Homo sapiens: one gene and its partners. The protein of the gene in region 1 purifies or fractionates together with the protein of each later gene. This does not show direct contact. Each region holds a gene or a part of one and is shown on either strand. Other genes may lie near its edges.

What was found.
Region 2: the proteins of MICALL2 (region 1) and LCN1 purify together in Homo sapiens (affinity purification with mass spectrometry, with the first as the bait; one large-scale study listed by BioGRID). This does not show direct contact.
Region 3: the proteins of MICALL2 (region 1) and PPP1CB purify together in Homo sapiens (affinity purification with mass spectrometry, with the first as the bait; one large-scale study listed by BioGRID). This does not show direct contact.

The regions. Positions count from the first base shown.
Region 1 is NC_000007.14:1,438,820-1,442,470, reverse strand, and holds part of MICALL2 (MICAL-like protein 2), read left to right. Parts: coding exon 1-279; exon of another isoform or gene 280-1,308; coding exon of another isoform or gene 1,309-1,786; coding exon 1,787-1,880; intron 1,881-2,385; coding exon 2,386-2,546; intron 2,547-3,475; coding exon 3,476-3,631; exon of another isoform or gene 3,632-3,651. UniProt on the Homo sapiens protein: Effector of small Rab GTPases which is involved in junctional complexes assembly through the regulation of cell adhesion molecules transport to the plasma membrane and actin cytoskeleton reorganization.
Region 2 is NC_000009.12:135,524,342-135,527,093, forward strand, and holds the end of LCN1 (lipocalin-1 isoform 1 precursor), read left to right. Parts: exon of another isoform or gene 1-161; coding exon of another isoform or gene 162-488; coding exon 489-590; coding exon of another isoform or gene 591-766; exon of another isoform or gene 767-790; coding exon 791-816; coding exon of another isoform or gene 817-817; intron 818-2,002; coding exon of another isoform or gene 2,003-2,176; 3' UTR 2,177-2,199; downstream 2,200-2,752. UniProt on the Homo sapiens protein: Could play a role in taste reception. Could be necessary for the concentration and delivery of sapid molecules in the gustatory system.
Region 3 is NC_000002.12:28,758,283-28,761,933, forward strand, and holds part of PPP1CB (serine/threonine-protein phosphatase PP1-beta catalytic subunit), read left to right. Parts: intron 1-3,651. UniProt on the Homo sapiens protein: Protein phosphatase that associates with over 200 regulatory proteins to form highly specific holoenzymes which dephosphorylate hundreds of biological targets.

The DNA of each region.
Region 1 (3,651 bases):
CTGCCGCTGTTCCCAGTTCTCAGCCCAAAACTGAAGCACCACAAGCAAGTCCCTTAGCCAAGCCGTTACAGTCCTCGTCTCCCCGGGTGCTTGGCCTCCCTTCGAGGATGGAACCGCCAGCCCCGCTGAGCACGAGCAGTACCTCTCAGGCATCCGCGTTGCCCCCGGCAGGCAGGAGGAACTTGGCGGAATCCTCAGGGGTCGGCAGGGTGGGTGCTGGCTCCAGGCCGAAGCCAGAGGCCCCGATGGCAAAGGGTAAAAGCACCACCTTAACGCAGGGTGAGTAAGGGGCTGGGAGGCAGGAGGCCCCGGGGGCCCGCAGCTCTGGGACTCTCCCCTGGCCGCACTCTGCAGTGTGTGCGGTTTCATCATCAGCCCCGCCCGCCTTCCTCTCCGTCTCATCTCTGTCCTCCGTGACACCTGCTCGCAGCCTCCTGGGGTCCTGGTGCGCTCTCTGTGTGGTGGCTGCAAATGTCCTCAGGGCTATGCTGTTTGCCGGCACCCAGCCCACCCCATCCGCACGTCCTGCAGGTGCCTGCAGCCCAGCCCTGCAGCGTCCCGCTCAGCTCGGTCTGGCAGTTACATCCTGTGGCTAGCAGTGGCCTGGCTTGGCCGTGGTCTGTGGGGCCTCCTGTTCTCCCGTGGTGTTTTGCGCTTCCTGCCTGTCGCTTTGACAACGTCGCGCTGTTGCTGTGGCACCCTGTGTCACCACATACCGGAGATGGTGCCCTATGCCCCGTCCCCCCTGTGGTGTCCCGGTGACGGTGCCCTATGCCCCGTCCCCTCCGCTGGTGTCCCAGTATGCCCTGTCCCCCTGGTGGTGTCCAGGTGAGAGCGCCCTGTGCTCCGTCCCCCCCGGTGGTGGTCTGGTGACGATGCCCTATGACCTGAGGGCTCTGGTGCCTCCTAGGCTGGGAGCTCTTCCTGGGGGCTCCCTGGACCACACAGTCCTGTTTTATGGCCTCACGTGTTTTCGGGAACAGGGAGCGAGCTTTCTTCTAGGCAACTGGCTGTCACCCACCAGGGGTTAGCCCCCTGGGTGATCATGGCCAGGCTGGGCAGGACGTGGGCTTAGGGCTTGTGAGGCCAACCCTGTGCCAGCTGGGAGGCCCAGGGCACTGGGATGGCCAGGCTACGCAGTGAGCTGTCAGCTGTGCCAGGACAGACCCCAGGCTCCTGGCGGCCCTGCTTTGATGCACGGCTCTGTCTCCCAACCTGGGGGCAGCCGAGTCCCCCCGCCTCGCCCCACTGCAGGAAACTGGCTGTCCCTGCCACCTGGGTGTGTGTAGAAAAAAGCTAGAGGTTCCCATGGCTTTATCGAGCTGGGCTCAGGGAACAAGCTGGGCTGCAAAGGGTTTTTCCAGATCCTTCTCTTTGGCTGAGTTCTCATTGTTAAAGCCACGCGCTGGATCCTGCAGGACCCAGGAGCCAAGAAAGCCTGCAGACGGGCAGCCGTGGCTCAGGTGTTCCCCTTGCACAGGTGGACAGAGGATCAGGGTCCACGGGGCTCACCCTGCCACGTCCCCACCCATTCGGCAGAAGGGGAAGTTGAGGCCCAGAGGCAGGGAGAGCTTCCCCCAGGGACACACAGCACAGGAGAGCCAGCTGGGAGCCCCTCCCCTGACTCCCTGCCCGGTGCTCCTGATGCCCCCCGGCCGGCTGGCTGTGGGGGTGTCTGAGGGTGGAGTGGCTATGGGAAGATGGCAGGGGGAGGCACAGCCACCCTTGCAGACACCCCATTCCCAGCACTCCTTCCTCACACCCAGACCCCTTGCCTCCCACCCAGACATGAGCACCAGCCTCCAGGAAGGCCAGGAGGACGGGCCGGCAGGATGGAGAGCGAATCTGAAGCCCGTGGACAGGAGAAGCCCAGCTGAGAGGTTAGGGATGGGTGGGGCTGGCCCAGGGCCTGGTACACCATAGGTGCTTAATAAATGCAGTGAGTATGTAATCGACCGATTGACACGCCTATCCAGGGATAGACGCACCTCCCTGTGAGTAGCAGAGGCCAGGTCACCCCTGCCTGAGGGACATGGGGGCCGCTGTCCCTGGTTTGGGGGCAGCGTTGCGTGTCTCACCTGGGCATGGCAGCACCCGTGTGGGTTCACGCACCATGCCTGCAGCTGGGGTGGAGTCTCCCCATGTGTGGGTCCCGTGGGGCCCGGAGCTCACGCCTGGAATCTGCTTCGCACCACGGCAGGTAGCGATGGACACGTGTGTTTGCAGGAGGGTCCCAGCAGGTGTAGTCAGTGGGCTGGGAGGTGGCATTTGCTCAGAAGGCCACCTGCTCCCTCCGGCTGGTCTGCATATGGCCTGGGAGCCCCTCCAGGTGGGCCAGGCCCTGGGGCTGGTGGTTCGGGTTCCGACCTCATGCCTTCTGCCCAGGACTCTGAAGCCCAAGGAACCACGGGCCCTGGCAGAGCCGAGGGCGGGGGAGGCCCCCAGGAAGGTCTCAGGCAGCTTTGCTGGGAGTGTCCACATCACCCTGACCCCCGTGAGGCCTGACAGGACCCCACGCCCAGCCAGCCCAGGACCCAGCCTCCCAGGTACTCCTGGACGGGACCCAGGGGCCCCCGGGTTGCCTAGCTGGCCCTCCCCCTTGGGTGGGGGCCCCGGGACTGGACCTGTAGTGCCACCTCCTGGGGTGTGCGGAGAGGCGCTCCGGTCAGCCAGAGAAGCTGGTAGTCCTGGGCAGGCTTGTGTGTACATGTGTGCATGTGTGTGATGCATGTGTGCATGTGTTCATGTATGTGATGCCTGTATCCATGCGTGATGCATGTGTGCGCATGTGTACATCTGTGTTCATGTGTGTGATGCATGTGCACGTGATGCATGTCCATGTGTCTGTTCATGTATGTGATGTGTGATGCATGTGTATTCATGTGTACATCAGTGTTCATGCGTGTGATGCATGTGTACATGTGTGATGCGTGTCCATGTGTCTGTGTTCGTGTATGTGATGCATGTGTGCCCACACGTGATGCATGTGTCCATGTGTACATCTGTGTTCATGTGCGATGCATGTGTGTCCATGTGTACATCTGTGTGATGCATGTGTGTGCAACCGTGTTCATGTATGTGGTGCATGTACCCATGTGTGGATCTGTTTCATGAATGTGATGCATGTGTGTCCACGTGTGCACCCGTGTTCGTGTGTGATGCGTGTGTGTGCACACACATCTCTGTGTGTATTCCTAGCACTCATAGCTGCCCTGGATCCATATCCAGCTCTCGTGCCACTTCCTGTGTGACCTTGAGCAGCCAGCAGCCCCGTGGGTTAGCCCCCTGGGGAGACATGGCCAGGTTGGGCAGGACGTGGGTGTAGGGCTTGTGATGCCAACCCTGTGCCAGTCGGGAGGCCCAGGGCATGGGGATGGCCGGGCTACCCAGCGAGCTGTTGGCTGTGCTGGGACAGACCCCAGGCTCCCAGTGGCCCTGCTCTGAAGCGTGGCTCTGTCTCCCCACCTGGGGGCAGCCAGGTCCCCCTCCCCACCCCGCCGCAGGAGACTGGCCGTCCCTGCCAGCCTCGACGTTTGTGACAACTGGCTTCGGCCGGAGCCCCCTGGCCAGGAAGCCCGAGTGCAGAGCTGGAAGGAGGAGGAGAAGAAACCTCACCTTCAGGGCAAACCAGGTCAGCCCCAGAGACACCGC
Region 2 (2,752 bases), on another chromosome or scaffold:
AGGGATGTGAGCAGAAGTCTGCATGGAAAGAACGTTCCAGCTCCCGGGGTTGAATTCCGGACGCGGTGCCTCCCACAGATGGTGACTCATCAGTGCTGTCCCTGTCAGAGGACGAGGCCCATGAAGGCTCCTGAGTTCTCCCTGGAGCCAGGGGTGTGCGAATGACAGAGGATTGGGATCCTGGTGCCCCCAAGGGGAGAGGCGCTTCCTCCAGGGTGGGCCTGTCGTGCCGTCCATCCTCACTCCGGGAGATGCTCAGGGATGGATGGAGAGCCCTTCCCGTTCTCCCGGTTCTGCTGCCACAGGAGCCTTCTCAGCCGTGCACGGCACCCTGGTCCCACTTTGCCAGCCTGAGGGCCTCTGGGTTCAATTCCCCCCACGGTGGGCGAGGTCCCCTTCCCCAGCCCAGCTCAGGCCTCCAGACTGGGATGGGGTGCCGTCGGCCCAGTGCTGCCTCGAGCACCCACATCTCGTCCTGGCACCCACAGGCAGAGACCCCAAGAACAACCTGGAAGCCTTGGAGGACTTTGAGAAAGCCGCAGGAGCCCGCGGACTCAGCACGGAGAGCATCCTCATCCCCAGGCAGAGCGGTAGGAGGCATGGCCCTGCAGAGCCCCCCATGTCCCCGCGTGGGGACATCAGCAGAGCTGCATTGCACGGGCGCATAACTGTGCTGCGTCTAATTCTGGCTTTGTCCTTCCTGGGGTGGTGGAGCTGGTGGCTGATGAGGGGCCCCGGTCCTGACTGCATTCCTGGGGTCTCCTAACGCCTGTGCTTCCTTTTCCTGCAGAAACCTGCTCTCCAGGGAGCGATTAGGGTGAGTGAACAGCTTTAGAGGACATTTGAGAAAATCCAGTTCTGGGGCTCAGTGGTGCTTCCAGAGGCCATGGGGTCTCTCCCACCCATCCCACTCCTACCTGGGTGGGAGATGCCCCACGTAGGTCAGGCAGGTGGGAGCTCTGCTCCTGAGCTGCCCACGCTCGGGCGTCAGACTCCGTTCTTGCCCTGGGTGTGACTCCTGGGCAGCTGGGAAGCCCACAGCGCTGAGCCCGCCTTTGCTGGCTGCTGGTGGAGACGGTGTCTACCCCCCAGTCACATGGGCAGGAGCAGGCAGGAGATTCGGGTTCCTCCTCAGCACCCCTCACCCTCGGCCATGCCTGTGACTCCACTTACCCGATAAGTTGCTCAAAGATTCAGCAAAGTGGCAGGCGTGCCTGTGCTCGCTGTGTCAGATGGGCCCCTTGCTGGCTGCACAAGGGGACCAGAGTTTGGAGACTCGCCCAAGGTCACCTGCCCAGGTGTGGGCAGAGCCAGAATCCTGGACAGCATCGCTGTCCTTCCCGCACCCTCCCCTTGGCCTGCAGTCACCCTGATGCCACTTCACTCAGCAGGGAGCTCTGTCAGCAGCCTGCGGGGGTGGTCCCTGCTCCATCCGCTCCAATCTAGAGGCTGGAGCCCCCACCTGCAGCCCCCAAGAGTCCGTGTGTGCCCCCCACACCATCGCCCCCAAGAGCTCGCATGTGCCCACCACACCATAGCCCCCTAGAGCCCGGTGCACGTCCCCCACACCATTGCCTCTGAGATCCAGCACGTGCCCCCGCAACCATCGCCCCCGAGAGCCCGCATGTGCCTTCCACCGTAACCCTCAAGAGCCCAGTGTGTACCCCCACCATAGCCCCCGAGAGCCCACATGTGCCCACACACCATAGCCCCCGAGAGCCCACATGTGCCCCCCACACCATGCCCCTGAGAGCCCACATGTGCCCCCCACACCATCACCCCTGAGAGCCTGCTGTGCCCCCCACACCATAGCCCCCGAGAGCCTGCATGTGCCCTCCACATCACAGCCCCCAAGAGTGCAGCGTGTGCCCCCCACACCATGCCCCTGAGAGCTCACATGGGCCCCCACACTGCAGCACCCAAGAGCCCACATGCGCCCCCACATTGCATCCCCCTCCCACCCTTGCTGTCCTGGCCTCACTCACCCTCCCCCCCTTTCCAGGGCAGGGGACACCTTGGCTCCTCAGCAGCCCAAGGACGGCACCATCCAGCACCTCCGTCATTCACAGGGACATGGAAAAAGCTCCCCACCCCTGCAGAACGCGGCTGGCTGCACCCCTTCCTACCACCCCCCGCCTTCCCCCTGCCCTGCGCCCCCTCTCCTGGTTCTCCATAAAGAGCTTCAGCAGTTCCCAGTGACTCCGCCTGTCTGTGGGGTCCCTCGGGGTGAGAGGTGCTGGCTGGGTGCTCTTTTGGGTGCAGGGACTGGGTGGGAAGCAGGAGGAAGGACAGGGAACCAGCCTGGACCCAGTTCTCCCTGGTGGGTGCCACAGGCCAACAGTGGGAGGGGCCTAGCAGGGGGGTGTGTGCTGGAGGCTGGGCCTGAAGGTCCCGGGGTGCTTCCTGCAGGTCAGCCGCCCGCTGAGCTCAGGCTGTAGGGGTTGCGGGGGTGGGGGCAGGGCTCCACTCCTCGGTCCTGCACAAGTAAGACCGGAAGGCCTGGGACCAAGCGCAGCTGCCACCCAGAGGGGACTGGGCAGAGCCACCAGTGCCCTCAGCACTGATGCTGAGTCCGTGAGGCTGGACGTGGGGGGAGGGGACAGCAGCTCAAGGCAGGGTGTGGCTCGGGCTTGAGCTCACCGGGGAAGCCAGTCCTGTCCTCCGGGGAGCCACACCAGCACTGCCCCCAGAGCCTGGCTCCACGCTGTCCCTCTCTGTGCCTGGGTAGGTTTGGGACAGCAAGTTCCCAGCT
Region 3 (3,651 bases), on another chromosome or scaffold:
CCATTTTCAAACATTTCTAACAGGTAAAGTAATACAGGTATGAAGGAATGTTAAGATTCTTAGAAATACTGACTTAAATTCTGTTATGTATTTCTGAAAGGTTATTCTCGAATGTTGGTGGCATATAGGGAGGCAAGGGGAAGAAATAGTTTGTAAATGTCAGTAGGTTTAGCAGTGGTGTGGTAGATGGGGATTCCCAGTGGAGTCTTCTAGGATTTGTGATTGGATACAGATTGATACCCTTAGGCAGCAGCCACTGCTTCTAGCAGCTTTAAATAGCCATTTCAAGGCTTATTCAAGTATAAATAACCAGTAGCCAGTTTTTTCCTGATTTGATAGAGGAAGTCAGTCCTTGGTCTAGATGGGTACTTGTCATACAGTAGGAAAAAGGGCGGGGGCAGTTGTCCTTTATTCTGCCTCTGCACTATTCACATGTGGAGCACAGTGATTTGTGAGAGTATGTATAACCTTCGTGAACATCACTGGCCTCAGAACCCTCCCTTGCCAAATTTACCTGCATCTGTGCAAAGACAAGTGGAGATATTGATGATATGTGCATATCCCAGAGGGAATAGCGTTTGCTTTTTGATGCATGCCCACCCTTGCATAATTGGGAGGTTTTAACATAGCATATTTCACCATAAAGGAATTTTATTCTAAGAATGTTAATCAGAATATCCCTAAGTAACAGAAGTTCCCATCTGGTCAGTTGCAAGGTGACCAAAACACTTTCTTGGTTTGAGTATAGTCATATGTTCTGTCAAATGATGTTTTGGTCAACAGTGGACTTCATGTAAGGTAGTTAGTGGTCCTGTAAGATTAGAATGGAACTGAGAAATTCCTGTCACTTAGTGACATCATAGGCATAATGTCATAGTGCAATGCATTACTCTTGTTTGTGGTAGTGCTGGTGTAAACCTATTGCACTGCCAGTTGTGTAAAAGTACAACAGGCCACGCGTGGTGGCTCATGCCTGTAGTCCCAGCACTTTGGGAGGCCAAGGCAGGTGGACCACTTGAGGTCAGGAGTTCGAGACCAGCCTGGCCAACATGGTGAAACCCCATCTCTACTAAAAATACAAAAATTAGCTGGGCTTGGTGGCATGCATATGCCTGTAATCCCAGTTACTCAGGAGGCTGAGGCAGGAGAATCACTTGAACCTGGGAGGTGGAGGTTGCAGTGAGCAAAGATTGCACCACTGCTCTCCAGCCTGGGCGAAAGAGTGAGACTGCATCTCCAAAAAAAAAAAAAAAAAAAAAAAAAAGTATAACACAATTATATAGAGTACATAATACTTGATAATGGTAATAAACAGCTATGTTATATATTTACCTTTTTTTTTTCTTTTTTTTGAGACAGAGTTTCGCTCTTGTTGCCCAGGCTGGAGTGCAGTGACGCGATCTCAGTTCACCACAACCTCTGCCTCTCAGGTTCAAGTGATTCTCCTGCCTCAGCCTCCTGAGTAGCTGGGATTATAGGCGTGCACCACCACACCTGGCTAATTTTTTGTATTTTTAGTAGAGACGGGGTTTCACCGTGTTAGCCAGGATGGTATTGATCTCCCGACCTCAGGTGATCCGCCTGCCTCGGCCTCCCAAAGTGTTGGGATTACAGGCTTGAGTCACTACGCAGGGCCCTGGAATATATTCTTATTTTAAAAAACTAGTTAAAACCGACTCAGGCATGTCCTTCAGGTGGCATTCCAGGAAAAAAAGCTTCGTTATCCTGGGAGGTGATGGCTCCATGCATGTTACTGCCCCTGAAGACCTTCCAGTGAAGATGTGGAGGCGGAATATAGTGTTACTGATGATCCTGACTCTGTAGGCCTAGGCTAATGTGTGTGTATATGGCTTAGTTTTTAACAAAAGTTTAAAAAGTGAAAAATATTTTTAAAAATAGGAAAAGGCTTAATAGGATAAGGATATAAAGAAAATATTGTACAGCTGTATGATATGCTTTTGTTTTAAGCTAATCGTTACTAGAAAATTCAAAATGTTTAAAAATTTTTTTAAGTTTCTAAAGTAAAAAATGTTAAGTAAGCAAAGGTTAATTTATTCTTGAAGAAAGAAAAATATTTTTATCTTTATTACTGTATATACATTGTGCCTTTTCTGTGTTTAGATATGTTTAGATATACAAGCACATTGTGTTACAGTAGCCTGCAGTATTCAGTACAGTAACATACTGTGCATCATGCTTTGTAGCCTAAGAGCAATAGACTATACCATCTAGGTTTGTGTAAGTCCACTCTGTGATGTTTGCACAACAACAAAATCACCTCACTGTGCATCTCTCAGGAAGTTTCCCTTTGGTAAATGATGCATAACTGGACTTGTCTGACACCATTTTAACCTTCCCCCTAGTCCTACCTCTCATTCTCAAGATTTGGAGAAATCAAAATCTAAGTTTTCATAATAAAAGGTTAGGTATATTGGGTGTTACATAGCTTTCACTAATGTCATATCTAGCAGTTGTAATCACGTATTTTAAAACTTTAAATAGTAAATTAAGAAGGAATCTTTATAGGTACTTGTATGTTTCCTCAATGTGGTTTGAATTGAGCGTTTTATTTAAATTACTATCAAATACTTGAGCCAAACTAGCGAGACAAAAAGACCAGACCTTTTCTTTTTTCCGAGATGGAGTCTCACACTGTTGTCCAGGCTGGAGTGCAGTGGTGCAGTCTCGGCTCACTGCAGCCTCCGCCTCCTGGGTTCTAGCGATTCTCCTGCCTCAGCCTCCTGAGTAGCTGGGATTACAGGCGCCTGCCACCATGCCCAGCTAATTTTCTGTATTTTTAGTAGTAGAGATGGGATTTCACTAAATCTCGAACACCTGACCTTGTGATTTGCCCACCTTGGCCTCCCAAATTGCTGGGATTACTGGGGTGAGCCACCGCGCCCGGCCGAGACCAGACTTCTGAGGGGGAGAAACTTGCAAACCTGTCAGTGAGAAAGAGTGAGGTCTGATTTTAGATGACAGAAAGGAATAGCTTTTGTGAATTTCGGACTCCCAACTACTAGAATTATGTGAATCCTGAATGATAATCAGATGTTTACTCAGTTAAGTGTTTACTCAAATATTAATAAGTATTGATACATTGGGATGCCATCTTATATAATGATTAACGACACAGATTCTGGGTGTATTTCAGCCCCAGTTTCTTCTGCATATATGATAGTAAGTGCCTTCAAACAATTCTTGACACATTAAAGGTCAGAAAATGTTAGCCGTCATTATTGCTTAGTACAAACCTGAGCTAGGAAATACTAACAGAGAGCTCTTTGTGCCACTGAGTCCTGGAACTTCCCCATACTAATTTTGAGAAGGCTTTCTTGTAAGTATGTGACAGATACTGTTTCCTCCACTTTCTGTTTATTGCATATAACCACTATTCTTGTATGTAAGTACGTATAACAGTTTCTTTACTATTCCCATTATTCAGCGTTTATAATCTGGTTTGACATATCAGTGTTGGTGCTGAGAGGGAAAGGTATTTCTAGGTAGGATAAAATGGTGAAAAGTGATTTAACACTGTTGTATGCTTGCTTTTGGCCAGGAACTATAGGGCAGTGTATCTTAAACTTTGAGTCTTGAGACCCTCTTACACTCAAATTCTCCATATATGTAAAGAATTGAAAACGAGCTTTT